4 linked regions of the Homo sapiens genome follow. The protein of the gene in region 2 interacts with the protein of the main gene of each other region in a pairwise test. Each region holds a gene or a part of one and is shown on either strand. Other genes may lie near its edges. The genes, in order: ENTREP1, STAM2, COL26A1 and SH2D4A.

The links.
Region 1: the proteins of STAM2 (region 2) and ENTREP1 interact in a two-hybrid assay, tested with the Homo sapiens proteins (2 studies listed by BioGRID and IntAct).
Region 3: the proteins of STAM2 (region 2) and COL26A1 interact in binary tests that used the Homo sapiens proteins (3 or more experiments, as listed by UniProt).
Region 4: the proteins of STAM2 (region 2) and SH2D4A interact in binary tests that used the Homo sapiens proteins (3 or more experiments, as listed by UniProt).

Annotation. Positions count from the first base shown.
Region 1 is NC_000009.12:69,327,872-69,335,254, reverse strand, and holds part of ENTREP1 (endosomal transmembrane epsin interactor 1), read right to left. Parts: intron 5,931-7,383; exon of another isoform or gene 5,556-5,930; intron 1,675-5,555; exon of another isoform or gene 1,094-1,674; intron 1-1,093. UniProt on the Homo sapiens protein: Functions as an activator of the E3 ubiquitin protein ligase ITCH in the ubiquitination of the CXCL12-activated CXCR4 receptor. Thereby, triggers CXCR4 endocytosis and desensitization, negatively regulating the CXCL12/CXCR4 signaling pathway.
Region 2 is NC_000002.12:152,123,631-152,131,013, forward strand, and holds part of STAM2 (signal transducing adapter molecule 2), read right to left. Parts: intron 2,750-7,383; coding exon 2,596-2,749; intron 306-2,595; coding exon 136-305; intron 1-135.
Region 3 is NC_000007.14:101,533,586-101,540,968, reverse strand, and holds part of COL26A1 (collagen alpha-1(XXVI) chain isoform 1 precursor), read right to left. Parts: intron 1,077-7,383; coding exon 920-1,076; intron 1-919.
Region 4 is NC_000008.11:19,330,531-19,337,913, reverse strand, and holds part of SH2D4A (SH2 domain-containing protein 4A), read right to left. Parts: intron 4,960-7,383; coding exon 4,800-4,959; intron 3,229-4,799; coding exon 3,057-3,228; intron 1-3,056. UniProt on the Homo sapiens protein: Inhibits estrogen-induced cell proliferation by competing with PLCG for binding to ESR1, blocking the effect of estrogen on PLCG and repressing estrogen-induced proliferation. May play a role in T-cell development and function.

The sequences.
Region 1 (7,383 bases), on a different chromosome or scaffold from region 2:
CCTACTAACTGTGAACTCCTGTCTTGTCTCTCTAAAGTCCTAGTTCCCAGCATTGTGCCCCAATTGTTGGCAATTAATATATGTTCTAGAGCATTTATTCCACAAAGTGGGAGGAACTACTGTGAGAAGGAGCTCATGTTGCAAAATGACACTTCAATAAAAAACGAGCTAAAAAATCTCAATAAGAAAAAACAGGCTGGGCGCGGTGGCTCACTCCTGTTACTCCCAGCACTTTGGGAGGCCGAGGCAGGTGGACTGCCTGAGCCCAGGACTTTGAGACCAGCCTGGACAACATGGTGAAACCCCATCTCCACTAAAATACAAAAAATTAGCTGGGCATGGTGACGCTACTTGGGAGGCTGAGGCACAAGAGTCGCCTGAACCCAGGAGGCAGAGGTTGCAGTGAGCTGAGATCGCGCCACTGCACTCCAGCCTGGGCGATAGAATGAGACTCTGTCTCAAAAAAAAAAAAAAAAAAAGAAAAGGAAAGGAAAGGGCCACTATTTTGCCAAAACATAAACTGGAAACCAAGGTCAGCCCTTTGGATAACACAGTTTGATAAACAATTGGGAAATGATAATCAAAGTAATTTTTCAGCCTGGGATGTGCTGATGCCATTTGAGCACTCTGAGCTTTGTAAAATAAAGTGTGTCTGCCAAAGGCAGCCATGAAGGTTTTCCTCTACAAGCACATTATACTTGTTCAAATTGCTCAAATGCACCATTTCACAATCAGTGTTTATCAACTACAGATCAGTAAGGACTTGACAGTGTCCCTTCAAATTCAAAACCCACAGGCCTGCTTGCAATATTCTCCATTCTCACTAGCTGAGAGTAATCATTCTGCAGCATCAGACCAGCATAGGACAAGTCTACCCACTTATATCAAGGATCAAAAACCATATACAGGCAGATAGGTGACAATTTCTTTGTGTGCCATCTATGTTTAAAGGTACTACTAGCTGCCTGCCCACCAGGCACTTTAACCTTGCAATCCCTTTAAATCCAATAGGATATTTCCTTACCCTAAACAATTTCTGCCTGAAGACACAGGGCAGGGCGTGTGTGACTCACAGTGTGTGAGTTGTACCTACTTTACAAATTGGGACTGCAATCCATGAGGTCCTGGGTTCCAGGCTCCCACTCAGCTTCTAAAGACTTAACTATGAGACCTTGGCCAAGTCATTTCACTTGTCTGGTCCTCACTTATTTCTTTAGAAATGCTGTAAGGGAAGGAAACCATCTCTTGGTCTCTTCTAGCTCAAAAGACTTACCTTATAGTGATGACAGTGATTCCTCAGAAATCTGTGACTCAGGGTGTAGGCACGTATGCTTGTGCATGTATGTGTGTATGCATGTGCTTGCATGTGTGTGCACATGTGTGTGCATGTGTGTATCCCTCTGTGCATGTGCATCCCACCTGCCCACTCCGGTGCCTACTGGACTTAGCTGAGGAAATTCAAGCTGTTCTTGTGAAAACATAACTTCATATTCAACTGCCCTTAAGGAAAACACAAATCTCCCAATTCAGTAAAAAATATGATTTGAATTATTAGTTAGCGTTTGACATTAATGCTACTGGTCTCCATTAATAGAGAACCCTGCGGTTCAGCTTTTTGGAATGTATTTTTTCTATTAAAACAATATTATTGGCCAGGCGCAGTGGCTCACACCTGTAATCCCAGCACTTTGGGAGGCCAAGGCAGGCGGAATACTTGAGGTCAGGAGTTTGAGACCAGCCTGGCCAACACGGTGAGACCCTGTCTCTACTAAAAGTACAAAAATTAGCTGGGTTTGGTGGCACACACCTATAATCCCAGCTGCTTGGGAGGCTGAGGCAGGAGAATCACTTGAACCCAGGAGGTAGAGGGTGCAGTGAGCCAAGATCACACCACTGCACTCCAGCCTGGGTGACAGAGTCCATCTCAAAAAAAAAATAATAATATTATTAAAAGGAAGTGTCCAGCCCCAGCCATAAAAGCCCATAAAATAGCAATATGCCTAAACTGTTCTGCCCCCCTCACCTACACAGCCACATCACCCCACCCTCCTCCATGTTAACAATCTAGCACGTTTACATATTTTACATATATATGTATTTTTCTCTAAATTCTTACTACACACACATGTCTATGTGTATATATACACACTCACAGGGATGTAATTTTTGTAAAAAAATCATAAAAGATATACTTTCCCTGCCTCTTCCTTTTCTCTCTCAATAAATACTTCATAGAAATCTCTTCATGTGCATTGGAACAGCTCTAATTCATTTTACTTTAGTGACTACATAACATTCCATCGTGTGGCTGTACTTAACGTATTCAATCATTTCCATATTAATGGGCATTCATTCTATGTCTAGTTTTTTGCTGTCACAAACAATGCTGCAGTAAACATCTATGAACATATATCTTTAAAAACAAGTGCTTTTATTTCAGCGGAAAAAAGTCCCAGGAGTGAAGTTTCTAAGTTGAAAGGTATTTCTATTCTTTTTATTTTAATAGATCATGACAGAGTCAACTGTCATTTCAAATGAGGTGTCTCTGAAACCAAAGAACTAAGCTATCTTTATTTCTTCCTTTGGAGGGGAGGTATTTTGTTTGCATATGGTAGCAACAAACTATAGAAAATGTAAGTTAAAAAATATGTACAAAATGTATATATGTACAAATACATGACAAATGAGAAACATCAATAATCTCAAAATGTATATGACAAAGATCTTTAAGGCCTCACTGGGGAGAAATACAAAGTTTATTGCGCAATATTAAATGAATAGCCAAGTCAGTCAAGGCATATACCAAGTCTATGGATTGAAGACAAACTAAGAATGTCATTTCCATTTAAATTGTTTTACAGACTCAGCACATATTCAAGTTAAATCCCACCAGGATTCTTGTAAGCCACCGCTCTTTACAATGTTTTAAGAAACTATATTCCAGCTCCAGGCGGGAGCTATAGTTGCAGCTCTTCATTCCTGAACCCCGCAACAAAGGCACACACCTACTTTTATTCAACTTCTCCCTCTCTTCAAGCCCAGTGAAGCCCTGAGGCACTTGGGGAACCCTGTGAGTGGTGATGGGGAGAAAAGCAAATAGAGGAAGTAGGCCTGGATGGTTAGAAGCCTCTCGAATGGTAATGGGAACAGAGGTGCTACAGTTGGGGATAAATTTTTTAAGAGCTCAAGACTTAAGGAATGATGCTTCCATTTCATCTGAAAGGGAGGCAGAATTCACAGACGGGGAAAGGGGTTGGGAAAAGAAGAAGAGAAGGAGACAGAGTATTCAATGCCTCCACCTCCCTTGGTGGCAGCAGTAGCTGGAGCTCCATCAGAAATGAGCCAAGAAGGTCCCTTAACAATGTCCTTCCATGGCTCCCATTATGCCACAATGCTATCAAATGTTTAACTGTATCACGATGAGGGCTTGGACCTGTGCGTACTCACTCACACACCACTAAAGGTTCCCAGAAGGCACTCAGTTAGTTATGGCAAGAGTCAATGAGTGAATGAATGAATGGAGGCCAGAAACAGGAGATGACATTGCTCAAAGATGACTATGTAAGACTAAACACACTTTTCATCCCCTGTGCTTCCTAAAAGAGTACAGCAGCAACAAAAAGCAACTCCATCAGCATTCTTTCCATCCAGCGCAAGATGAAACTTGCCCTGAATGAACAGGTAAGAACCTATTTTCTAACACCAAACAATCTCTATATTATTATGAGAGGTATTACAATTTTTGTTTCACTCACTGATAACCTATTTCTTGTAGCTTACAGGAAAAAGCAGAGGGCTTTCCTTTTTTCTGAGACTGCAAAGAAGGGCTCTGAGATACCCCAGGGAAGAGTCATTGTTACCCACCATAAATGGTTAATGTGCTTTCATTTTCCAACGTAAAAACCAAATCGTTAAGATCAGAAGCTTATAATTCTACTGCCCTATTTCCCTTTGCTAATCCATTAACTTGTATTAGGGCAAAAATGTTCTGAATCATTTATCAAAAGCTGCTGTATGTAAACACAGAGATTTTTAAAAAGCCATGTTGTAAATGTCCTGTGTTACTTTGTAAATAAGCAGAAAATAATATGTCAAACTTCTCAACAACCTACCCTGCCCTATAGCTCTTACAATGGCAACTTTTTAAAAAATGTGTGTGTATGTGTGTGTATTTCTTCCCTATCTGTCTAGCACAGCTCATTAAAAAAAACAAATTGAGAAAGTGGGCAACTGAATATTTCTAATGAAAACATGATGGTAACTATAATGTCCTACAAAAATACTGGCCTGTTCATTTTACTTTGATTAACTATTACCTCGGTATTTAAAAACCATTGATACAGGTTCCCGTGTATTCCAGGTCTGGTGCTTGGGTCCAGCAGTGATGCACTCTCCTATGTATACTCTAGCTACACCCTGACAAAATCAGCACTGAAGAAGAAGAAGCATCCCACCCATTTGACAGATGAGTAACTGAGGCCAAGAGGCACAGAACTTATAAAGGTGACTCTGCTGATATGCAAAATAAAGGACCAAAGAAATCAATAAAACTCATCCCCAAAATTATAGTTTAAATATCCCTTAAATATTAAAGTAGTATTTGATTAGTATGATAAAAAATATTTACTATCATTTAACTGGTAGTAACCATAATCTTTATGTTAGTTTTTCGTTTAGTCCATTGATTTTTCTTTATGTTTATTCACTGCGATTTTTTTTACAAAGGTTCACCCTAAAGTTCACCAATGTCTGTCTCTTTACGTGAAAGTAGAACCTTGCCAAAGAATCATGGACTCAAAGGATGATCATGAATTTAGATCAGTGACTTAAAGCACAGACATAGATGTATACAACTGATAAAGAATAATAGGGCACTCAGAGAGGAGTAAAAAACAACAACCAATTCTCTACCACTCATCTGAAATATCTCCCAAGGATCATGCATGTCATCAAAGGTAGGAATTTTGTTTCTGAAGGAGGAGAGACAACCCAATGCAACTCTCTCTCCTCTTTCATTAAATCTAGTGCAGTGTGGCCGACTGAGTCTCCCATACCCCAGTGGAATCTACTTAACCCCAGTGGAACCTAGCTAACTCCCTTACCCAGTGGAATCTAGTTAACATTAACTCCCATACCCCAGTGGAATCTAATTAAACCCAGTGGAACCTAGTTAACTCCCATACCCCAGTGGAATCTAGTTAACATTAACTCCCATACCCCAGTGGAATCTAATTAAACCCAGTGGAACCTAGTTAACTCCCATACCCCAGTGGAATCTAGTTAACATTAACTCCCATACCCCAGTGGAATCTAATTAAACCCAGTGGAACCTAGTTAACTCCCATACCCCAGTGGAATCTAATTAAACCCAGTGGAACCTAGTTAACTCCCATACCCCAGTGGAATCTAGTTAACATTAACGCCCATACCCCAGTGGAATCTCGTTAACTCCCACACCCCAGTGGAATCTAGTTAACACTAAACGCACCCCCCAAACCGAGAGCTAGGACAGCACAGCTGAAGACAGACACTGAGATCCTCCCTTAGCCACTCACCTCCAGTCAAATGCCAGGTTGTTTTTCAAGATGGCTCATCTCTTAGCTTCACGAATTTTGGGAATAATAATATATTGAGTGATTTACCGGTGATACCAGGAAGAAATCAAATGCTCAGAGTGCTCAAAAACACAGACTACGTTAAAAACTCTCCCTTCAAGTTGCTGAAAGTATGAATGAAAACTATGAAAAAAGATGCTTTATAGAATTTGTTAATTCTTAAGTGTTTTTTAAAATAGATAAAATATACCTTCAAAGTTCAAACAAGTGAAAGAAGCCTCCAAAATCTCAGGCTCAGGGCTCTCTTAAGGAAATACATATGAAAAAATATCCTTGAACTATACTGTGTTCAACAAATAGTCATTTCAAATAAATATATTTGTCTCTTGAACCTAATTTTGTATCAAATACACAAGCAAAATTTTCAGTGAAGCCTAAAGAAGATGTGTGGGTTCAGTTGATATAGCAGGCTAAAGATCCTAATGGTCAAAGCTTGAAATATGAGGATATTCTTCTACTGTGTTCCTATGTGGGTTTGAAGTAACCTTAGACATAAGTTGGCACTTCCATTCAACTACCTAGCTTCATATGCCAATAAAACTTGTGAGTGAATAAATAAACATGGCATATCCATACAATAAAATAGGAATGAAGTACTGAGACTTGCCGCAGCATGGATGAAGCTTGAAAACATGCTAAGTGAAAGAAACCAATCATAAAAGACCACATATTATATGATCCCTTGTATATGAAATATCCAGAACAGACATATCTACAGAGACTGAAAGTGGGTTAATCAGTGGGTGGCTAGGGGTGGGGGTGGTGGAGAATGAGGAGTAACTACTCAAAACTTTAGGGTTGATAAACATTTTCTAAAATTGTGGTGATAGTTGCACAACTGTGAATTTACTAAAAACCATTGACCAGTACACTTTAAATGCTAAATGGGTAAGTTGTATGGCATGTGAATATATGTCAAAGCTGTGTTCTTTTTTAATTCTGCAGTTCTCAACTCATAATCTTCCAACTTTTTTTTTTATAGAAACCTTAGTTTAGCTGTCTTTGAATTAGTTACAATGTCCTATCAAGCCCATTTCTTTTATAAGTACATACTAAAATACTAATGGCTGAAGTTGTGATACCTGGAATTTGCCTTAAAATAATCCAGGGGTGTTAGGAAGGGGGAGCAGCGTTAGGTATAAAGTGGCCATGTGTTGATAGCTACTGGGTGAAGGGTAAAATGCGGGATCATTACACCCTTCTTTCTACATTTGTTGAGTTTTTAAATTTTTATAATAAAAGATTTAAAATTGAAGGGAATGGTTCTTCGGACTGCCCACTCAATCCTATGCTGGTTATATTTTCTTGTGATAAAAATACACACATTGGAATATATACAGATGAAATGTGACACCTGAGATTTGCTTCCAAACAATAAGAGAATTTAATCTCACAAATGGACTAGGGAGCACGAAGGATCTAATTCCCACCCTGCTTGGAATATTCATCCTTCTGAAGTTTATCAGAAGACACAAGGCCAGCAGCAGAGCCCAGGAAGGGGGTGCAGATGAAACCATTGTTGAAGCTGGGTGAAAGGTATATGTGGGTTCATCGTATACTGCATAAATGTAAACTTTTCCATAACACGAGGTTTTTAAAAAACAACCTCTGTCACATGCATAAATTCAAAACATGTGATACAAGGCTTTTTTCCCCTAAAGCACCAAGAGAGTCATGGTGCCTAAAGCCATCCTCTTAAATTTGTATTTAATTGTTCTATAAATACAGTATCTACTGCTTCTGTTGTCACTTTGCAAATTCTGAGGTC
Region 2 (7,383 bases):
GGTAACACCATTCCACTTCACAGGATTATGAATAAACAGTTCTGTAACTTCATCTTAATAAGGGTCTATATATTCTCATTCTGAAAATCTAGGAAAATTAACACATATAAAATTAACACAGCTCCCAAAACTTACCTTAAATATGAAGTTTGAGCAGGCTGTGCTGTCACTGAGGAATTCACATTTGGAGGCAGAGATCTCAGTGGACCAATTTGATCGGGTCCTAGGCTATAGCTTTGGGCAACAGTTACTTGGTGAATGCTCTGACCCATATAGTTTCCACCATGTGATTGAACTGGATATGTCTATTAATCAGAAAGAAAAAGTTGATTCACTCATCTCCCAAACATGTGCCTAATAATATATTTAAAATGTTAAAAGACTTAAAGGAAAGAAACTATACTTCTTTGGGAAGCAATCTGATTCTACCAATCTATCCATCTTAGAACTAAAAGTGGAGAGCTGTCAAATCACAGTGCCAAATCTATGGAAATTTGATTTGTTTGGCTGTTCTTTTATTTTTACAGAGAGCTGGGAGAAAGACAGGTGGTGTACTTTTAAGTAGTGGATTGCAATCTATCCAGGTTGCCTATTACTCAGTAAAGATGTCTTGCTGTAGAGCCACAGAAAACTATACACTCCCTTGAAGGGAAGCCCACCATCACTTAAAGTCACTATAAGAATGATAACCTTCTTTACCCTCATCCCTGGATGACTCATCCAACTCCTTCCTAAGAAAGAAACTTGAGAGAAAAAGCTGAAAAAGAAATGGTATAAGGGTGCCAGGGCTTCCCTGGCAATGTCTACCTTATTCTCTACCTTTAAGACAAACAGGACAAAAGTAAAGAAGAGTTATGGGCAAAAGACATGTATCCTCAGGAAACAGCAAAAATGGTTTAGGTCTCTTTGGACATTTATATGTGCCCTACTTATTTTCAGGACAACAGCTCCTTAAGGACAGGGTCTACCACCTGTCTACTAAATATAGCATCAAAACAATGCATACATTTAATATCATATCATACCATAATGATCATCAATCCAGTTTTAAATTAAGCTATTTTTAAAGTAAATACCATTCATCTGAAAATTTAGAATGCTAGAAATGCCAAATAAGCTATATTAAGTACAATCACATTACCTCCTTAGTAGACATGTAACAATCTACTGACAATAGGCTGAGACTGTGAGAATCAGCGTCTTCTGCAGTTTAGGGTTCCTGAGTAGCCTACACAATATAACTAATGTGTTACCCCAACTGCTTCTAGTAGAGATATATTTTTGTCAAATTAGAATAGAAACTTTTGAATATTTCAAATGCTCTTGAGTGAACAGTGTAGGTACAGATTACGTGAGGAATCAAACAGAAAGTTAACTTTTTAGAGACATGAGTTGTGCTTGGCAAAACGCAGTAAGTAGAATGCAACTAAACACCAAAACCTGACACAGAATGGCAAATAACCCTTTACAGACACACAAAAAAGCAAACATAAAGTTTTATCATACAATGATGCAGACACTGCTGTTTTGTTCCACTTTCACAGCAGCAGCGAACAACTCTGAAAACAGAAGCAAACTGAATAAATCCCAAAGGTCTTTTGCAGCCAGAAAAATCTTTCCTACCCTCCTAATTTTCAAAAAGATCAAGGCATGGCATATTTGATAAATGTATCTTGTCTGACGTGACAGTTACCATAGTGACTATTCTTTTTTTACTTAACAATTATGTTGTGTCAAGTCATCTAAATTATGCACCCACATTCTACCCTTTCTCCTTGGTGTCTCCTTCACATGCACCTTTACATACCAGTTTTCATAAATTAACATGAATTTTGCTCATCCAAGCTCATTCTGAATTCAATTGGCTAATTGGCTGAAATTTCAAAAAACGCTTCCGAATGGGGATACTGACAAATGTAAGTATTCGCTTCACATGGCAAGCACACAAAAAAGGTGAAAAGTACTGGAAAAAGATGGCTTATGGATGTTCATGGATGGCTTACGGAGTCTGTACCTCCTAGACATGTATCATATCTTTGCTATGCACAGATTTTTAACAATGTAAGTCATGCAGCTAAGTAAAGGAAGTATAAAGCATACTCTAGAAGTTCATTGTGCCTGTTAATAATCATGTAAGTCAAATAAATCTTTATGGAAATTTGTAAAGAAATGTTAAATCTTGTTGAGCAGCAGGAAAGCGTTAGTACCTCACCTGGGGAACTTCTGATATGTCAGGTATTGTCCTAAATCAAAAGATTTATACTCCATATTTACAAAAAGGATTTATGTTTACATAAAAGATTTATGCTTTATACTTACAAAAGCATATGAAGAACCAGAACTACCCTCACATATTTAATGGTCTTTTCATCCATGTTAAAACTGAACTAAAATGTATTTGTGAAATATCAGTATCTGTCTAATTTGCTCTGGTGAATGTTAATTGTTTAGCCAATATTTACTGAAACAATCAAAGATAAATTTTATAATTTTATTCACAGACAAAAGAAATCTTAATACTATGCTATAAAACATTTTCTTTTACTTTTAAAAGTTGTTTATAATTTAGAAAATGTTCTCAAAAAACATGCTCACCTGCATTGGAACCCCAGATGATGCAGGTGGGTAATGTGCTGGAGGGTGGAGCTTTGAATAGACTGAGTACACTGGTGCTTCATTCACCAATTTGTTATATAGTTCCAGAGCTTCCAGGACTTTAACATTCAATTCAGACAATTCTGAATGCTTCCTGATGTAGAAGAAAAGTATTATAATACTCTTCTAGTTTTTAGCATGTATTTAGTAATATAAATTATTTTTTTAATTTAGCACAATTTCTATTAATATATTAAAAGGCTTTTTTATATTTAATGAAAGAATATTCACAAAGGGAAACTAAGAGGAAGAACTGCTTAATCCTTGTAATAGCTAGGCTGATATTGAGGCAGGAGAATAGGGTCTGGAGGCAGGGAATCTAAGGCTGATTTTCAAGCTGACTTCTTATAACTAAATTGAAAGGAAAACCAACCCTAACTTTCCACACCTAAGTAACAAAAGGACCAGAGGCTACTTCCTTTGCAAACCCCCCACGTTTTCTGTGCAGCAGATGGGAAATTGGGTGTCCGAAAAAAATCAGACTGATTACAGGTCCAGTCTCCATTTGCAACTTTGTAACTTCAGCCTCTGAATGGTTGCTGTCCACAACCAATCAGACTGACTGTGGGCGGAGTCTTCATTTGCAAAGAAATATAACTTTGTAACTTCACCCTAGCCTCTGATTGGTTGCTTTTTGCAACCAATCAGATGTTTGCACAGCAGTGTTACCTTTGTAACTTCATTTCAGCCTCTGGTTGGCTGCTTTCTGCAACCAATCAGACTGATTGTGAGCTTCCACTTCATTTACATGAGGTGAGCACGAAAAGGCCAATGGGAAACTTCTAGGGGGTACTTGGACCCAAGAAGATTCTGTATCCTGGCCCTTGAGCTGCTGCTCAGGCCCACTCCCACACTGTGGGGTGTACTTTCATTTTCAATAAAACCCTGCTTTTGTTCTTTTGTTGCTTCCATCTTTCTTTGCTTTGCTGGGCATTTTGTCCAATTCTTTGTTCAAAATGCTAAGAACATGGACAACTTGCAGTCACAATCCTCTACTGGTGACAATATGACTTTATAATATTAGGGAAAAGTCCTTCCACACCTCATAAAATGCAATCAATTCATAATTTCGGTGCTGAGAGAATTTACTTTCACACATTCTAGGTTTTTTGTTGAGAATTCAATTATTAAAAAGAAAATTCTCAATTTGGGTAAGAATCTGGGCCTTAATTAAAAATCTCAATAAAAGAAAGTACCCAGGCAAGGCTCAGAACCTCTATGAAGTACAATATGATGGAAATTTAAAAACACTTGTTAAAAAAAAACCACACACACACATTTTCATTTGTTTATATCCATGAAAGTGTCAACTGAAAAAAAAAAAACCTACTTAAATAATTATCCTTGAAAATCCAAGTAAAAACAATGTGTAAGTAAGACTAATCTCTACAGCTCATTTGTTGGTTGGTTGATTTTGAGAAAGTAAACCAATGCTTTATTATGTAATAACAACAAACCCAAATAAAAGCATCTTCAAATTTGCCCAAGAAGCTTCAGAGCAAACTCTTTCTACTTGATAGTTCCCCTGGGAGTAATAAAGAACTCTCTTTGCACTGTCAAATTTACAAAAGCTAAGCAACCACTTTTCATCTGGCCTGAAACATCCACAAGCCTTTTTACTGAATGTGGTTCTTTCTACATAAACACAGAGAGGCAACAAGCAGAGGCACACAGACAGACACAGGACTACCAAGTAAATAGCCTGGACTGAGTCCTATCAAGATTTGTCACTTTTCCTCTACTAGAGTCTGTTATGTCTGAACTACAACAACGAAAAGTCTTCTCTCTCTGGTAAGAATGACTGCATTAAGCAGGTCAAACTCTATTATCAAAAATATCAGGCCGGGCGCGGTGGCTTATGCCTGTAATCCCAGCACTTTGGGAGGCCGAGGCAGGCAGATCACGAGGTCAGGAGATCGAGACCATCCTGGCTAACACGGTGAAACCCCGTCTCTACTAAAAATACAAAACATTAGCCAGGTGTGGTGGCGGGCACCTGTAGTCCCAGCTACACGGGAGGCTGAGGCTGAGGGAAGAGAATGGTGTGAACCCAGGAGGCGGAGGTTACAGTGAGCCGAGATTGCACCACTGCACTCCAGCCTGGGCAACAGAGCGAGACTCTGTCTCAAATTAAAAAAAAAAAAAATCAGTTACAAGTCACCCAGAAAGCTACAGAAATTAGTGCCATGCTAACAAATGCATAACTAAAATGTAACCGTAGGAATTTGATCCACAAAACCCAGCATGCTGATGAAACACCAGGAAAATGCAGTAGAAAGACATGATCACTGTGTTTGAAATCCCCTTAAAGATTTGAGACACAATCCCAGAGTAATAAGGCAAAAGAGCAACTTGATCAGGTGGTAGAAAATTACCTTTGGAGGACAGGAGGAAATAAGATTAGAATAGTCTGGAACATAGTTAAGTCCAGACTATGAATCTCTCTTCAACAAATCTACCTAAACTTTTATGGAGTCAATTTACATGTTTACTCAATATAATTTCTTAGGCTGATAAAATGCTACAAAATTTCATTCTGTACAATGACAAAAATGAAATGTACAATTTAACTTTCTAACAGTAGAGATGTTTTTCTTAGTAGGAATAACAAACATGATCCATTCAAGGGAAAAAAGGATATTTTATTCATCTTTGAATACTTGACAAGGGTAAATAATAGTCAATAAGAATTTGTTGAAGAACAGGAAACATTTCCCAGAACAGGAGCTGCATCTGCAGCTGTGGCCATAGAACAAGAAAAAATGCCAGTTGGCCTATTCAAAAACTGAAACTGGTAAGAAAAATGGTTAATGGTTGAGTTCTCACTCAAAAAATTAACTAATATCAGAATGGTCACTTTGATTTTTTTTTCTTTTGAGAGCAGATCTCACTGTGTCACCCAGACTGGAGTACAGTGGTGCAACCGTGGCTCACTGCAGCCTCCTTGACCTCCCAGGCTCAAGTGATCTTCCCACCTCAGCTTCTTGAGGAGCTGGGACTACAGGCGCACACCACCAAGCCCAGCTAATCATTAAAAAATTTTTTTGTAGAGATGGGGTCTCACTGTATTACCCAAGTTGGTCTCAAATTCCTGGGCTCAGATGATTCTCCCACTTCAGCCTCCTGAAATGCTGGGATTATAGGTGTGAGCCCCCACACTGGCCTCAATCTGACTTCTAATTCTTCTAGATCTTTTCCTTTAACAAAATTCTTTTTATGAACCAAAAATAAGATTAAATTGTCATAGTTTCTGCCTTTTTTCATTATATAATATCTGCTCATATCAAGGGATAATTATCAAGGACAATGATTTCCATTGTAGAATGTGTGGACATACACTCAGCCCTCCATGTCCATGGGTTCTGCATCCGTGCACTCAACCAACTTCAAATTGAAAATACAAAAAATTAAAAAAAATTGTGTCTGAACTAAACATACAGCCACATCTATCATAATACTTTTTAATCTTTTCCAGTTTGATTATTCACTGAACATTAACATGCTGCATTGAAACAAAGTAGATGTGTAACGAGATATTTAATGCTTTCTCTAAAATATGGCAAAACTACTGTTAATTGCCACACAGATTTTTCATTTCTTTAGAAAACACAACAAATTTATTTTTAAAATGTCCCCTGGAACAAAGACGACAATCTCTGGTGACTAGGAAAAGTCCTGCTGCTACTGCACTTCTCTGGCAGAGGCAGAAAAGAAGTAGTTTATATTCTCCTTCTTATTTTGGTCCTATCTAATCTTTTCTTCTTGTGCTGCTTATATATTAATTCAATAAATACCACTAGAAAGGGATGATGATGGAATACTAAGCCCTATCCCTTGTTTTCCTTTCACTACAGGTTCTCCCTATGACTTCAGATAGAGAGCTGAGAAATAAGGGAGCAGAACCAAGTTAAAAGCTCAAAACCCTGAAAGTCTACCCCCTTCAGTGTTGCTCCTATTTTATTTTTATTTATTTATTTATTTTTTGAGACCGTGTCTTGCTCTTTTGCCCAGGCTGGAGTGCAGTGGCGAGATCTCGGCTCACTGCAAGCTCCGCCTCCTGGGTTAACGCCATTCTCCTGCCTCAGCCTCCCGAGTAGCTGGGACTACAGGCCACCACCACCACGCCCGGCTAATTTTTTGTATTTTTAGTAGAGACGGGGTTTCACCATGTTAGCCAGGATGGTCTCGATCTCCTGACCTCATGATCCACCCGCCTCGGCCTCCCAAAGTGCTGGGATTACAGGCTTGAGCCACTGCGCCTGGCCGCTCCTATTTTTAAAGGACAATAAGGGACAGGCACAGTGGCTCATGCCTATAATCCCAGCACTTTGGGAAGCTGAGGCAGGAAGATCACTTGAGGCCAAGAGTTTGAGACCAGCCTGGGCAGCACAGCAAGACCCTGTCTTTAAAAAAAAAAAAAGCTGGGCATAAGGCTGGGTGCAGTGGCTCACACCTGTAATCCCAACACTTTGGGAGGCTGAGGTGAGCGGATCACGAGGTCAGGAGTTCGAGATCAGCCTGGCTAATATGGTGAAACCACATTTCTACTAAAAATACAAAAATTAGCCGGGCATGGTGGCAGGCACCTGTAATCCTAGCTACTTGGGAGGATGAGCCAGAGAATGGCTTGAACCCTGGAGGTGGAGGTTGCAGTGAGCCGAGATCGCACCACTGCACTCCAGCCTGGGTGACAGGGCAAGACTCCATCTCAAAAAAAAAAAAAAAGAA
Region 3 (7,383 bases), on a different chromosome or scaffold from region 2:
GGTCTCACTATGTTGCCCAGGCTGGTCTTGAGCTCCTGGCTTCATGCAATCCTCCCACCTCAGCCTTCCAAAGTGCTGGGATTATAGGTGTGAGCCACTGCACCTGCCCAAGATCATCTATTTTTTTGAGACAGGGTTTCACCCCGTCTTCCAGGCTGGATTGCAGTGGCATGATCTTGGCTCACTACAGCCTCCACCTCCCCAGCTCAAGCAATTCTCATGCCTCAGCCTTAGGAGTAGCTGGGATTAATCATGCTGGGCTAATTTTTGTATTTTCAGTAGAAATGGGGGTTTTACCATGTTGCCCAGGTTGGTCTCGAACTCCTGACCTCAAATGATCCACCTGCCTTGACCTTCCAAAGTGCTAGGATTACAAGCATGAGTGAGCCACTATGCTCGGCCAGATGGTCTACTTTTTTTTTTTTTTTTTTAGACGGAATTTTGCTCTTGTCCCCCAGGCTGGAGTGCAGTGGCGTGATCTCGGCTCACTGCAACCTCCGCCTTCCGGGTTCAAGCGATTCTCCTGCCTCAGCCTCCTGAGTAGCTGGGATTACAGGCACCTGCCTCCACGCCTGGCTAATTTTTGTATTTTTAGTAGAGACAGGGTTTCACCATGTTGGCCAGGCTGGTCTCGAACTCCTGACCTCAAATGATCCACCCTTCTCGGCCTCCCAAAGTGTTGGGATTACAGGCATGAGCCACTGCACCTGACCAGATCGTCTACTTCTTAAGAGAAACTAGAAATCCTGGCTTTTAGGTGAAATACCCATTTTCAACTGTTAGCTTAATTTTTCAAAATGCCACATGGCATGTTGGAACTAGAGTGTCTAGTGTGTGGCCTCTCTAGGGAGGCCCTGGGAGGCCATGCCCAAGGTCCCTTCGGCTGCCCCAGCCTGTCCTCTCTGCAGCCCTCACTCACCGGCTGGGCCCGTGGGCCTTCTCTGTCGTGGCACAGGGTGAGCAAGAGGGATGGCGTCGGGGAGGAAGTCCTCATTCCAGGTCGGCGGAGTGCTCTCGGGGGCTGGCAGGTCGTTGTCCGGGCTGGAGGGCCGTTCTGCTGCTTCTAGCAGGAGGACCTGGGCCAAAGGAGATAGAGAGTCAGGTCCCAGTTGGGCCTGACACATAGGGACATGCGTGACACACAGGGACATGCATGTGCACCCCATGAGACCTGCAGCTGTCCACGCTGTGTGTGCCCCGTCACGCTCCTTAGTGGGAGAACCTCACTCGTGGCCCAGGTTCCCTCCATCCCAGCCCTCTCCTCCTTCTGACATCAGGAAAGTCTTTCTGGACCCTCAGGTTCAAGGAGTGCCCTTCAGACACCGTCAAAGTCCCTGTGCTGGCTGGGAGTGGTGGCTCATGCCTGTAATCCCAGCACTTTAAGAGGCTGAGGCTGGAGGATCACTTGAGGCCAGGAGTTTGAGACCAGCCTGGGCAACACAGTGAGACCCCCATCTCTACAAAAAATAAAGAAAATTAGCCAGGCGTGGTGGCACACGCCTGCAGTCCCAGTTACTCAGGAGGCTGAGCCCAGGAGTTCAAGGCTACAGTGAGTTATGATTGTGCCACTGCGCTCCAGCCTGGGTGACAGATCGAGACCACATCTACAAAAAGAGAGAGAGAGAAAAAAAAAGCACACACACATACGCACACACACACACACACACACACACATACACACACACACACAGACAGAAAAGGAAGGGAAGAAAGGGAGGGAGGAGAGTGAAAGGGTGGGTATAAATAGGCCCCTTGTGGCACATGACCTTTAGAAGACTTTCCAGAAAAACAAAAGTGGCCACGATTGCTTGGGACCAGCCTGCAATGCGGCCCCATCTGTCCCTCCTTGAGGGAGGCAGGAGTCAAAGGTGGCTGAGACCCAGATCCCGGGACCGGGAGACTTTCTCCTTCCTTTAAACAACTTGAGAGCCAGGACTCAGAGGCCCCGTGAGTCTCTGCTGCCCCCGAAGAGGCCAGCAGGGGGCGCTGTGTGCCAGAAATAGGCTCAGGGTGGGTGGAGATCCCTGCTGGGAACTTGGGTGGGTCCTGGGGCCGAGGGGCGTGAAGGACCTGCTGGGCTGAGCTGAGAGTCCATGGTGCACAGGCAGATGGTCTGCCTGAGTAGCTCCCTCACCAGTTCTGCAGTGCCCCTGGGCCTGGGGGACAGTCCTGGGATCCCTGGGGACAAAGTGGCCTGCTCTGGGCTCCTCCCCAGCAGGGGTGTCTCCAGGGTGCACTTAGCGGCTGCTCAGGGCTCTGACCCTGCACCCAGGGTTCTGGCTGGGCCCCCTGGGCTCAGGCCCTGCTGTGGGCTGCAGAACGGGCTCCCCCTCCACCCCTCTATGGGACACAGTCCTCCGATGGCCTGGATGCCTGGCCCAGGGCCCCTTAACCCCCCAGAGCCAATTCTTTCAGCCCCTCCCCTTTCTGGTCCTTAGAAGGGTCCATGAAACTGGGAGGGTCACTGCGGCGACATCACAAATGAGGTGGAGACAGAGGCTCAGAGACTGCAAGTGACTTGCCTGAGATCACCCAGCAAATGGGCGGTGAGGCCGGGGCCCCTAGTGGTGCCTCATCCACCAAACCACAGTTTATCCTCCCAACAGTTCTGTCTCAACCCCGGCTGAGCTTCGTGGAGGCACAGAGAGCGGGGACAGCTGGCTCAGATCACACGGCAGTGAAGGGTGGACCCCGTTCTCCTGAATCTCCAGGAGGAGAGAAGGGTTCCGATTCCTGCCCCAGCCACTGGCACCCCTGAAGAAGCTGACGGGCCACAGCCAAGTTTAGGGGCTCTGGAGAGGAGCAAGAAGACGGTGGCTGTCAGGTCACGTGATGGAAGGGGCCTGGGATGGCCAGCGCAGGGGATTTGGAGGAGCGTCAGGCCCTGGTGCTCCTGGGGCTGGGGGCAGGAGGTGGGGTGAAGGTTGGAGTGTGTCTCCCCTTTCAGGCCTGGCTGCTGGGAATAGTAGAAATGCCCCCAGTCGAACAAGGGCACGGGAGAGGGGCAGGCTTGGGAGTGAAGGTGATAAGTTGGCGGGGGTGGGTTGCAGTATCCCAAGGGGAACTCAGATGGCCATATTTAACAGGGGGTGGTCCCAAGGGCTGGGAAGTGGAGGTAGAGGACCATGAGAGGAGGCAGGGATGGTGTGGGGAGGCTAGGGTGGAGGAGGAGGGAGCAGGGTGAAGCCTGGAGAGATCTGGGGAGGGGTCCCGCCTTGGCCTCCTACAGGCAACCTCTAGTGTTCCCCATTCTGGGCAAAGCTCTGGCTTCCCCCGAAGTGACCTGCCAGCCAGTACAAAAGGCCTAGCTCTCTCCTTCATGGGGCACCTCCCACTGGGACACCCCTGCCCACAGAGCCTGCAGACCTGGGCAGAGGAGCCCTGGTTGGAATCTGCCCCTGCCAGCGTCTCAGCCCTCCTGGCCTGGCTGTGTCTGACCTGGAGAAACTGATCCCATTTCTGTCCAGGCATGAGCTCACCCGGGTGGGCAGCCATGGGCGTGGGGCCAAGAAAACCAGGCCACGGCCTTCGGGGGCAGTGGCCCTGATGATGTCATTGTGGCCTGGCAGACTAGCCGGGACACTGCCCTCTGCACCAGAGACTGCTGGGACTCTGAGGCTTCTGTGACTCTTGTGTACTGTTTGTGGTCCATGAGGTCAGAGAGTAAAGCCCGGGGCAGGAGAGGGGAGGGCAAGCAGGAATCTTCCCCGGTACCCTGCTGGCCTTCTGCCTGCCAGCCTGTCCCAGGAATAGAGGGTGGCAGAAATCCTGGACCAGCTTCTAGGTCTGCACCAGTGGGAGAGCAGATGGAGCAGACTCTGTGGGTTGCCTGGCCCCCAATGCCCCTTCTTCTCTTGCCCCAGAACTCCCTCTTGTGACTCTGTACATGTGACCCAGGAAAGGAATCAGGACCAGCCTGAGCCAGGCAGAGCCATCCCTTTCTGTTTGGCCAGGTACTCAGTTTCCCAGCTCCCTTGCAACCAGGAGGTGGTCACATTGCCCCAGCACAGGCTCATGAAACGTAAGGAGTCTGTTTGGGTGCTTCACCTCACCCTCCACTTCCTGCCTTTACATACAAGGTGAGGATGTGATGCCTGGAGCTGCAGCAGCCACTTTATAATCATGAGGCATCAACCAGCTCACTAAGAAGTCAGCGAAGAGCCTGGCTTCTTTGGACACCAAACCAATCCCGAGACCACCTCTGCTCCTGGACTTCTTGTGGAATAAACAATAAATGTCCTTATGGAATAAGCTACCATTGGCCAGGTTTCTCTCATTTGCCTCCTTCCCGACATACCAAAGCAGACTTCTTGTCTAAGGGAGCAGAAGCCCCAGTGTCCAGGCTCTGGGTTGCTGCTGTTTTATGCAAGCCATCTGATTTCTGCTTCCCTGTCTGGGATCTGCCTGCCTGGCTCCTGTCCTGGCTCTGCCTTCACCCTGCTAGGATCCCAGCCTCTGCCCTGGCTGACCCCTAGCCTCTGATCTAAGCTGAAAACCCAGCTCCGTGTCCTGGCTCCTGCAGACTCGCCTGACCTCGGCATGGCCTCTGGTGCCGCTGGGCTGTCTTGGCAACTAGCCCAGCTGGTGTTCCCTTCCCCTCTCCAGGCCGCTGCCTCTCAGGGCCCTCTGATCTGGGCCATCAAAGCTGCCAGTGGGGCCAGGCACAGTGGCTCATGCCTGTAGTCCCAACACTGGGAGGCCAAGGCGAGCAGATCACTTGAGGTCAGGAGTTTGAGACCAGCCTGGCCAACATAGGGAAACCCCGTCTCTACTAAAAATACAAAAATTAGCCGGATGTGGTGGATCACACCTGTAATCCCAACTACTCAGGAGGCTGAGGCGGGAGAATCACTTGAACCTGTCCCAGGAGGCAGAGGTTGCAGTGAGCTGAGATCACGCCACCACACTGAGATAGCACGAGACCTTGTCTAAAAAAACCTCCTAGAGGCCCTCTCAACATACGTGGGCATGGAGTGGGCAGGTGGGCGGCCAGAAGGTGCTCCAGACAAGACGGGGGAGCTAAGATAGGAGTCTCCCAGCCCCTACTTAGAAATGCAGACAACTGTCAAAAGGACGGGGGCTGCAGAGCTACCCCATCTCTGCACACTCCAGGCCCAAGCTACCAACCCCAGCTCCCCACTCGAGAGCTGCCTGAGCTTCCCCACTCTGGACCAGCCTCAAAACGAAGTGACTCCAATTTCCATTTTCCAGGCCATCCGACTGAGATCCAGAGGGAAGGGCTGGCCAAGATGGAGTGGAGGAAGGGTGGGAATCTTGGCCTGGGCTCCTCCCACGCACTGCTGTCCCTCCCTCCAGCCCTCGAGGCACACAGAGAGGACACAGTCCTCTCACTCAGGGTCACAGGACAAAGCTCTGCCCCGGGCCTGCTGCTGGAGGCCATGGAGCTGGGGCCCTTGGTGGAGAGGGTGTCAGGGCCGGGAAGACCACAGGGAGGAATTGCTCATGATGGGAGGATGTGGGCCAGGTGGGTGGGGGACAGCTGGCAATGTGGCCATCCTACCCTAGAGCTGCGACTTTTAACACCCACAATACTGGGCTGAGGCCAGGGCTGCTGCTCTGTGCCAAACCACACAGAGGCTTCCGGTACTAGGAAAATGTCCATCAGGCTGGGCATGGCTCGGGGACCCTGCCTTTTCTAAAATCTCAGGTGCCAGAAGCTTACCGGCTCAACATCTTCCCCTATACTCATTCTAGGGGGTCCTGGCCCCGGCTCAGCCCATGTGGAAACATTTGCTCCCTGGAGCCCTCCAATCCTGCCCCACAAGAGCTAAGACTCCAAGGAGAGCAGCTGGGTCTCTCCCATCCCAGGCCTGTGCCCAGGGGCCTGGGCTGCTGGGAGACCCTGCCCGCCCATGGAAGGGCTGGAGGACAAGGGAAGCCGCGAATGCATGCCGTGGGGCTCCCCGTCATTGCTCTGCACAGATGTCTCCCGCACACCTGTGTTCATATCTGTAAGGCGGGAACAGTGACGTGGCTGGCGTGGGTGACAGCACTAATCCTTGACTCCTGGTCAGCATTAGACCATTTCCAAAGCCGGTTCCCACTGCCATCTCCCTGGAGGCTCTCAACAGCCCTGCAGGGCTGATGCTCTGATCCATTCTACAGATGAGGAAGGGGGCTCTGAGAGAGTCACCCAGCTGGCGGGTGGTGGTCCCACAAATGTCTGACTCCAAGCCACACTCACCTGCAACCCCCAGGGCGGAAGTCAGGGCCAAGGGTAATGTGGAGTTGTCAAGGGCTGTGTGTGTTAATGTGTGCACAGTTGTGTCATGTGTGTGTGTGTGTGTGTGTGTATATGTATGTGTGCCCATTGACATGCATGCTTGTGTGTGTGTGTATGTATGCCTGAGTATCCGTGCATGTGACCATGGGTATTACATATGTGTGTCCCTGTTTTTGTGTGTGTGCATGTGTCTGTGTGCACATGTGCAAATGTGTGTGTCTGTATGTGTATATATGTATGTGTGTCTCCACATGCACACAGATGTGTGTGCACAGGTGCCTATGTGTGCATGTGTGTGCACATGTATTATGTGGGTATGCATGCGTGTGTATGTGTGCTCTTCTGGGTGGAGGCATGGCTGACCCTGGCCCTGCTCTCTTCTAGGGGTTCTTGCTGCCTGGGGCTCCAGCCCCACCGTCTCAGGTCCCTGGTCCTCCCTGCCACGTGGCCCTGTTCACACACTCTCTCTGGACAATGCCACGTGCTCTGGTCACCACAGTTCTTCCCCGGAGAGAGCTCTGCCTCAGGCTCAGGTGATTCCAGCCTCCTGGTGCTGGCTCTCCCCTGGGGGGCCAGGCAGTGCAGCCAACCCTGCTGTCCCAAGAGGCTTTGTAGATATTTGGAGGCTGCCTCATCCCTCCAGACCTGTCCTCCCTCAGGTCGAGCCCCTCTGGCTAAACACCAGAGCCTGCTTACCAAGCCCTCTGGGTGAGAACGGGGCTTGTCCCCATCGGGGCAGACACTGTTGGCGCCCCACACGCACCCTTCAGCCCCACCTGGCTTTGGCTTTTGCCTGTGGCCACCTGCAACTCTGCCAAGGGCTTTCTCCAGCCACAGGAGCTGGCATGAGCCTGCTGAGACAGAGGTACCCTCGGGTAAGTGTTACCCAGTGAGGAGCAGGAGAGATGCCTGGCTTCATCGCCCTAAGGTGGCTGCCCCTGAAACGTTCTCAAAACCACCGTCTCCCAGAGGGAGCGTGGGATGGAGCCCCAGGTGCTCCCACAGGTCACCTGCCCATGAACACACCTGTACTGGGCATACCCTTCTTGGCCTCTCTCCCTGCCCAGTGCTGCCTGGGGTCACTGCCAGGTAAATTACTTGTCCTTTGTGGATTCCTTCTGCCTCTGGGTTGACTCCAC
Region 4 (7,383 bases), on a different chromosome or scaffold from region 2:
TCTGTCTGATATGGTTTGGCTGTGTCCCCACCCAAATCTCATCTTGAATTGTAACTCCCACAATTCCCATGTGTTGTGGGAGGAACCTGGTGGGAGGCAGTTAAATCATGGGGGTGGGTCTTTCCCATGGTGTTCTTGTGATAGTGAGTGGGTCTCATGAGATCTGATGGTTTTATAAATGGGAATTTCCCTGCGCAAGCTCTCTTGTCTGCTGCCATGTTAGACGTGCCTTTCACCTTCCACAGTGATTGTGAGGCCTCCCCAGCTACATGGAACTGTAAGTCCATTAAACCTCTTTGTTTTGTAAACTGCCCAATCTTGGGTATGTCTTTATCAGCAGCATGAAAACAGACTAGTACACTCTCTCTCACATTTTCCTTGGCTCTCCTCTTATAAGGACACTTGTCTTGGGATTTAGGATCCACCCTAAATCCAGGGTGATCTCATCTTGAGATCCTTTACTTTAATTACATCTGCAAAGATCTATTTCCAAATAAGCTCACATTCTGAGGTTCTAGGTGGACATAAATTTCGGGGGATAAATATTCAGACCACTATAGTGACATATACACAACTTACAATAAAAATATAAATGTACCATCGAGTCAGTTGTCTGAGAGGTAGCAGACGACCTCTTTAAAGGCTCACACTAGCTGTGAAATCAGGCTCCTCGCTGTGTGGCCTGCTGTCAGAGTGAACTTCAGCAAATACCACAGGAGCCCCTGACAGCATCTTCTCTGACACAGGGAAAGATAAAAAGCAGGAATATAAAAACCTGTCACCCATCTATTTCCATATTCCTTCTATCTGAATATTTCTTTCTCCCCTGCCCCCATCTCTTTCCATATGTCAGTTTAGCAGGCACCTAAGGAAGGCAACAGTGCCACTCTCAATATAATATTTATGAGATGGTTAAAGAATAATAACTGTGGTATCTATTTTAATTTCCATTTTAATCTTTTGTCCTACTTTTGAAAAAAAAAGGTCTAAAAAAGTACTGTAATTCAAGCACAAATATAAGCATACATACTTAATACTTTTTTTTAAGACTTAGGGTCTCACTTGGTCCCCCAGGCTACAGTACAGTGGTGTAATCAGGACTCACTGCAGCCTCAAATTCCTGGGCTCAATCGATCCTCCTGCCTCAGCCTCCTGAGTTGCTAGGACTACAGGCATGCACCACCATGCTTGGCTGTTTTTTTTTAATTTTTTGTAGAGATGGGGGTCTCACTGTCTCTGCAGGATTATGCCCAGGCTTGTCTGGAACTCCTGGCCTCAAAAGGGATCCTCCTGCCTCGGCCTCCAAAAGCACTGAGATTACAAGTGTGAGCAAACACACTCAGCTGCATAATTAATACTCTGGAAGGAGCTTTCTTGTTATTACTGTTGTTCTTGGTTGGAGGGGTGTGGGAAGGGGAGCCGTGTTGGGGGAGTTTAGTGTTACACATGCTGAGTGCAAAGCACACCTGGGGAGGACGGGAGGCCTCAATGAGGATGTGGGGAGCATGTCCAGGGCTGACCTTGAGATGAAAAACCAAATTTAGAATTTTCTCTTCCTAAATATTTTGAGCCTCATATTTGTAGCCCTTCATAAAAAGCTTCTTCATAGCCCTCATATTAATGACACAACCAAACATGAGAGTTAAGAATTAAGGAGTTAGTAGTTAATATTTAAGGAATAGCCTGGGGGTCCTGCAGACCTGGGTTTGAATAAGACCTTGGGCAGGTTGCTTAACCACACCTAGCCTCAGTTTCCCCAGCTGTAAAATGGACAAATGTCTCTAGTTCATGTTATTGTGAGGATTACATGAGACACTCAGCAGTGTGCTTTGCTGTGGAATAACCCCTGACCATGTTAGTTATCAGAGTCTCACTAGGTCCTAGGAGGAGGCAGGAGATACCTGTATTCCCATATGATAGCCTCAAAGAAGTCAAAAGCACACACAGCCAGTGCTGCAGGGCTGGAGACATAAATGGAAATCAAACAACTGCAAATCCCTGTTAATTCTCAGTGTAATTAAATTCCTGGTAGAATAATAAGGTGTTTCATTGTTCTCCCAAACTATAATCCAACCAGCAAATTATGTTTGAGTTTTTTAAACCATCTGAACCATAAGAGAATTCATACCAATTCTGAGTATAAAATTTCTATTATGTTGGGGAGGTAACTGTCCCCAAGTCACAGGCAGAGCCAATGAAGCCCAACAGGCACTGATGTTTAGAATCCGCAACAAAAAGGCTAAGACTCAGTAGAATGTAATCTAAATCATGAACAGGCCAAATCTGCCCCTCAGCCTGTGCTTGAAAATAAAGTTTTATTGGAACACAGCCATGCTCATTCATTTGTGTATAGCTGTGACAAAGATGGCATGGCCCATAAAGCCTAAACCATTTACTATGTTGCACTTTACAGAAAATGTTTGCCAACCTCTGCTGTAACAGAAGACATATAATGGGGCAGCATTGAGGAGAACCTGAAAATATCTTAAAATGCCAAATTGCATTCCTAGCGTTCTTGTTACTTTCAGTCTCATGAAATAGGGGTGCTTTATTTTCCATGATGTAGCATGGAAGGTAAATCCCCCAAGTGACATGAGCAAGAGGATCTTTTTTTTTTTGAGATGGAGTCTCGCTCTGTCGCCCAGGCTGGAGTGCTGGAGTGCAGTGTCGCAATCTCGGCTCACTGCAAGCTCCACCTCCCAGGTTCACGCCGTTCTCCTGCCTCAGCCTCCCGAGTAGCTGGGACTGCAGGCGCCCGCCACCACGCCCAGCTAATTTTTTTTTTTGTATTTTTAGTAGACACGGGGTTTCACCGTGTTAGCCAGGATGGTCTCGATCTCCTGACCTCGTGATCCGCCCGCCTTGGCCTCCCAAAGTGCTGGGATTACAGGCATGAGCCACCGTGCCTGCCCTGGAGGATCTTAAAGTTAGGAGGCATTTCTCCCAAGAAAGCCACTGGAGGATCCTGACACTCAGCCACAGTAGTCTCTGTGGCCTCAATAGCTTTTTCTCCCCCATGATGAAATTCCGCACGTCTACAGACAGTAAGGACTCACTCGGATTTTCTCTTCTTCCAGGGTTGGTGCTGGCCTCGATCCTTGCTCCAGTTCCTCCTTTTCTGCCACTTTCTTCCAGATGTCTTTAGTCTGCTGGTTATCCGGAGCCTGCAGATCATGGTACTGTGATTTTGTTTTCAAGCTATTGGTGAATTCTTCAGAGTGAGTTTTTCTGAAGAGAGGCAAAAGTGAAATTCTCAAAAAACATTCTTCAACAGGAAGAGCCTTTCCAAAGCATATGTCGACATTCAAATTATGTGAAAAACAGTAACTGACACCACTTACTGAGTGCTTCTAACATGCTGGGCCCTTTGCTAGGTGTGTAAAGACGTTAACTTCATCCTCATCACAACCCTGTGAGGAAGGCATTGTCATCCTCACTTTGTTATAAGAGCTCCAAGAAATTTTGTAATTCATCCAAGACCACATAGTGGTACAGCCAAGATCTGAACCCTGGTCTGCTCAACTCCTGGTTTAGAAGTTAACCTATTAGAACCACACCGTCTGCTTCCAATCGATGATTAAATAATTCCTTTATCTTCATATGTCCATGGATAGTTTTAAAGTTACAGGCACTAGTGGGCAGCATCCCAGCCCTTGAAAGTCCAATGCACCATCCACTGTGCCACAGAGTCTGCTTTGCATCCCTAGCCCTTGGGAACTGAACGGTGGTCCTCATGTCTGTCCCAATTTCCACTTCACCACCTCAGGGTAAGGCTGTCAACATCACTGCCCAGAGCCAGAGGAGGACACCCAGAGCACCCCAGGTACCCAGCAGAGGAGCGCCATCACCTGCCTCAGTTTCCCTCCGAGTTACCTTCCTACATCTGCAGTTGATGTCACTTCCCTATTGAAAAACCTCACCGTCCAGAGAATAAGTTCCAAACTCCTAAATCTGGCCTCTGAAGCAGTTGTCCAAGTGTATTCCAAATGCTCAGAAGACCTCATCATTCCCCAAAGAACCATCCGTAGTCAAGTCTAGGGATCTTGGTTAAGCCCTCTGCCTGCACTTTCCTTCCTGGCCTTCTGTAGCTGGAAAACCACTCCTTTCAAGGTTTGGTTCAGATTTCACCTCGTCTGTGGATCAGAATGATAGGTTCCCACCTATGCTTGGTAAACTTTCTGTTTGTACCTTAATTATAGCACAAATCACAGCCTGCACTGGCCGCAGTGAGCTGTGCATATGTCTACTTCTCCTCCTAGACTGGAAGCTCCCTGTTTCTCTTTGAATTCCCAGTACCTTGCACTGGGTAGGCACCTAAAGAGCCTGATTATCCAGCCGCCTGTATCTAAGTGATCTCCTTGGAAGGCCTGAAGCTTGCACAGTCACTGCATTTCTCACATATGTTCCTGATACTCAGCTGCGTCGGCCTGCATTGCTCTAACATGACTCTAGTGCAGCCACGGGTGATCACTGGGGAACTCATACACTCATACAGATCAAAACTGGAATGACAAGCAGGGAGATGAAGCAGCTGATTTGACAGCACTAAAGATTTTCATGAGGTCTTTAGTGCTATCAAAGACTTTAGATCAAAAGTCTAAATCAACCTTCTAAAGAGATCCAAAAGGTCTTTAGACCAAAAGTCTAAATCAACCTTCCAAAGAGATCCAAAGTGACTTTTGTGACCCTCCAACCCAACCCTACTCTCCCACCTGATACTGTGAGCAAGAGGTGTGTTTGCAATGTTTTCTAAAGTCTGGAGAGTCTTTAAGTCTCTGGTTGGTTTGCAGATCTCATACCTGGGCTCTTCTGCCTCCTGTTCTGCTTTCAGCCGGGCCCTCTCAGCAATAATTTCATTACAGAGCACATCATAGGGTTTATCTAGATGGTGTTCGCCCATCACCCATACCCAGACTTCCTTATCAGCTCCAAGTTTCCAATGAACCGATTTGCCATTCTCTGCAAACAAACACACAAACAAAAAATTCAGATTGAACAAATATCTTTAGTCACAGATTACTGTTTCCATCACTAAAGTATTTTGGGTCTTTGAAAATATATATATATATATCAGATGAGACAAAGAACTTCCAACTGCTCAGGAACATCTGTAGGTAGCAATGGCAGTGGTGGCAGTGAGAGGCAGCTTCAGTGAAAATATTTGTTTTAAAAATATTAGGGGTATGTTTTTTGCCCGTGCTTTTTTTTTTTTTTTTTTTTTTGACAGTCTCACACTGTTGCCCAGGCTGGAGTGCAGTGGCATGATCTTGGCTCACTGCAACCTCCGCCTCTGGGTTCAAGCCGTTCCCCACCTCAGCCTCCCAAGTAGCTGGGATTACAGGCACCTGCCACCATGCCCAGCTAATTTTTGTATTTTTAGTAGAGACAGGGTTTCACCATTACAGGCATCTGCCACCACGACCAGCTAATTTTTGTATTTTTAGTAGAGACAGGATTTCACCATCTTGGCCAGGCTGGTCTTGAACTCCTGACCTCGTGATCCACCCACCTCAGCCTGCCAAAGTGCTGGGATTACAGGTGTGAGTCACTGCGCCTGGCTGCATGTGCCTATTTTATAAATGAAGAAACTGAAATGGGAAGCAAGCATTCATTGTTTGCATTATCCTTTAGGGTAACAGAGCTAGCACTTCACACCATAAATTCTTACATCTAACTATCTCCCTGTAACCCAGAATTCCACAGCTGCTCAAGGGTGTGGCATTTGTACTACATTCACAGGCTTCATAGGTGGGTAAAAAGCAGGTTTTATTATTTTATTTATATTGTATTTTATTTGTATTTATTATTTTATTTTAGAAATGGTGTCTTGCTCTGTCACTCAGGCTGGAGTGCAGTGGTGAGCTCATAGTAGTTAGGAATGCAGGCATGCATTACCATGCCCAGCTAATTTTTAAAATTTTTTGTAGAGACAGGGCTTTGCTTTGTTGCCCAGGCTGGTCTCAAACTTCTGGCTTCAAGCAATCCTCTTGCCTCAGATAAGGAGGTATTTTAGATTTAGACCACCTTGAGTTCAAATCCTAGCCCTGTCACTTACGAGCTATGTGACTTGGACAACTTTCTTAAACTCTTTAGACTCAATTTCCTCATCTGCAAAATGGGAATACCAATATTTACTACCTAGGGTTGCTGTGGGCAGGCAGGCTACCTGTGCCAAGTTCTTCCCCTAGTGCCTGCCACATAACAGGAGTTCAATAGAGGTTAACTGCTATCATTGCTAGCCTATTATTTACTTATATGGCTGCCTCAGAGATTCACACCAGCCTGTGAGAAGATAATATAACCAGGTAGTATGATACTTGGTGAAGCTACTTAAATAACCCTTGTTTACAATTGGCCTCCAGGTTAGATTATATCCTAGTGCTCCTGAAATGCGGCCACATCGGTCATGCTCCCTTAAACCGGGGGCAGGTGGAGCGTACCTAGGAGAGGCCAACAGAGACCATCCCTGAGTCTGTCAGGCCTACCCAGGGCAACTGTGGGCCAAAGGTGGACCTCTAGTCAAGACCCCAAACTAGCAGTGGTGCTGACTGCATGGAAGAGGGCACCTGGCTGGTGTGTGTGCTGGGCCCTGTTTGATGAGCAAAACATCCACACTGGGATTGTGTCTTGTCCTCTCACACTAAGTCAAAGGAGGTTTCCAATTAAGGTGTCTTCTGTCCAACGTATTCTTGACTTTTGTACTGTGGCCTTGGGATACATTACCAAAGCAGGCTGCTCAAAGCCAGGCTCGTGCTTTCTTTTGACCCTTTCTACCCTTCTTGGTACAGTGGACACTCCTGCAGTATGTTCTAAACAGAGACGCTGGGCAGAGGGAACAGACTCAGACTCTGCACTACCAAAGAATTCCCATTTACTGTTTTCACTGTGGAGAAACAGCAAATGTGGCCTCCAGGTAAGGAGGGGAAGGTCAATCCCACCATGCCCAAATGGGGCTGGGCACCAGTGCCAGCTCCTGGCAAGCTCTTTGTCTGTTTGACATAATGCCAGATGGTTTGTTAACTTTAGAAAGCTGTCATACCTCATAAAACTCCCTTTATTACACTCTCTCAGGCCAACTAATAATATTTTTTTTATGTCAGCCTCTCAGCCTTCACCTAAGTAGTTCTCTGTCGGTATTTTTTTTTTGACAGCAAGAGGAAGATGCCCAGAAAGATGGCAAGTGGCACTGTGCCAGGGGAAGAAAAAGGAAGAGCAGAGGGATTCCAGCACCTCAGCTAGGACAGCCCAGAACAGCTCCAGAACAGCCTCCAGGGGCTACGGGCAGGGCAGGAACTCTTAGGGAAAAGGGGCATTGCTGCAGGTGGGGAGAGAAATCCTAGGACTGCATGTGAGCAGTTGGGGCTTCAAAGCTAAACACAGAGA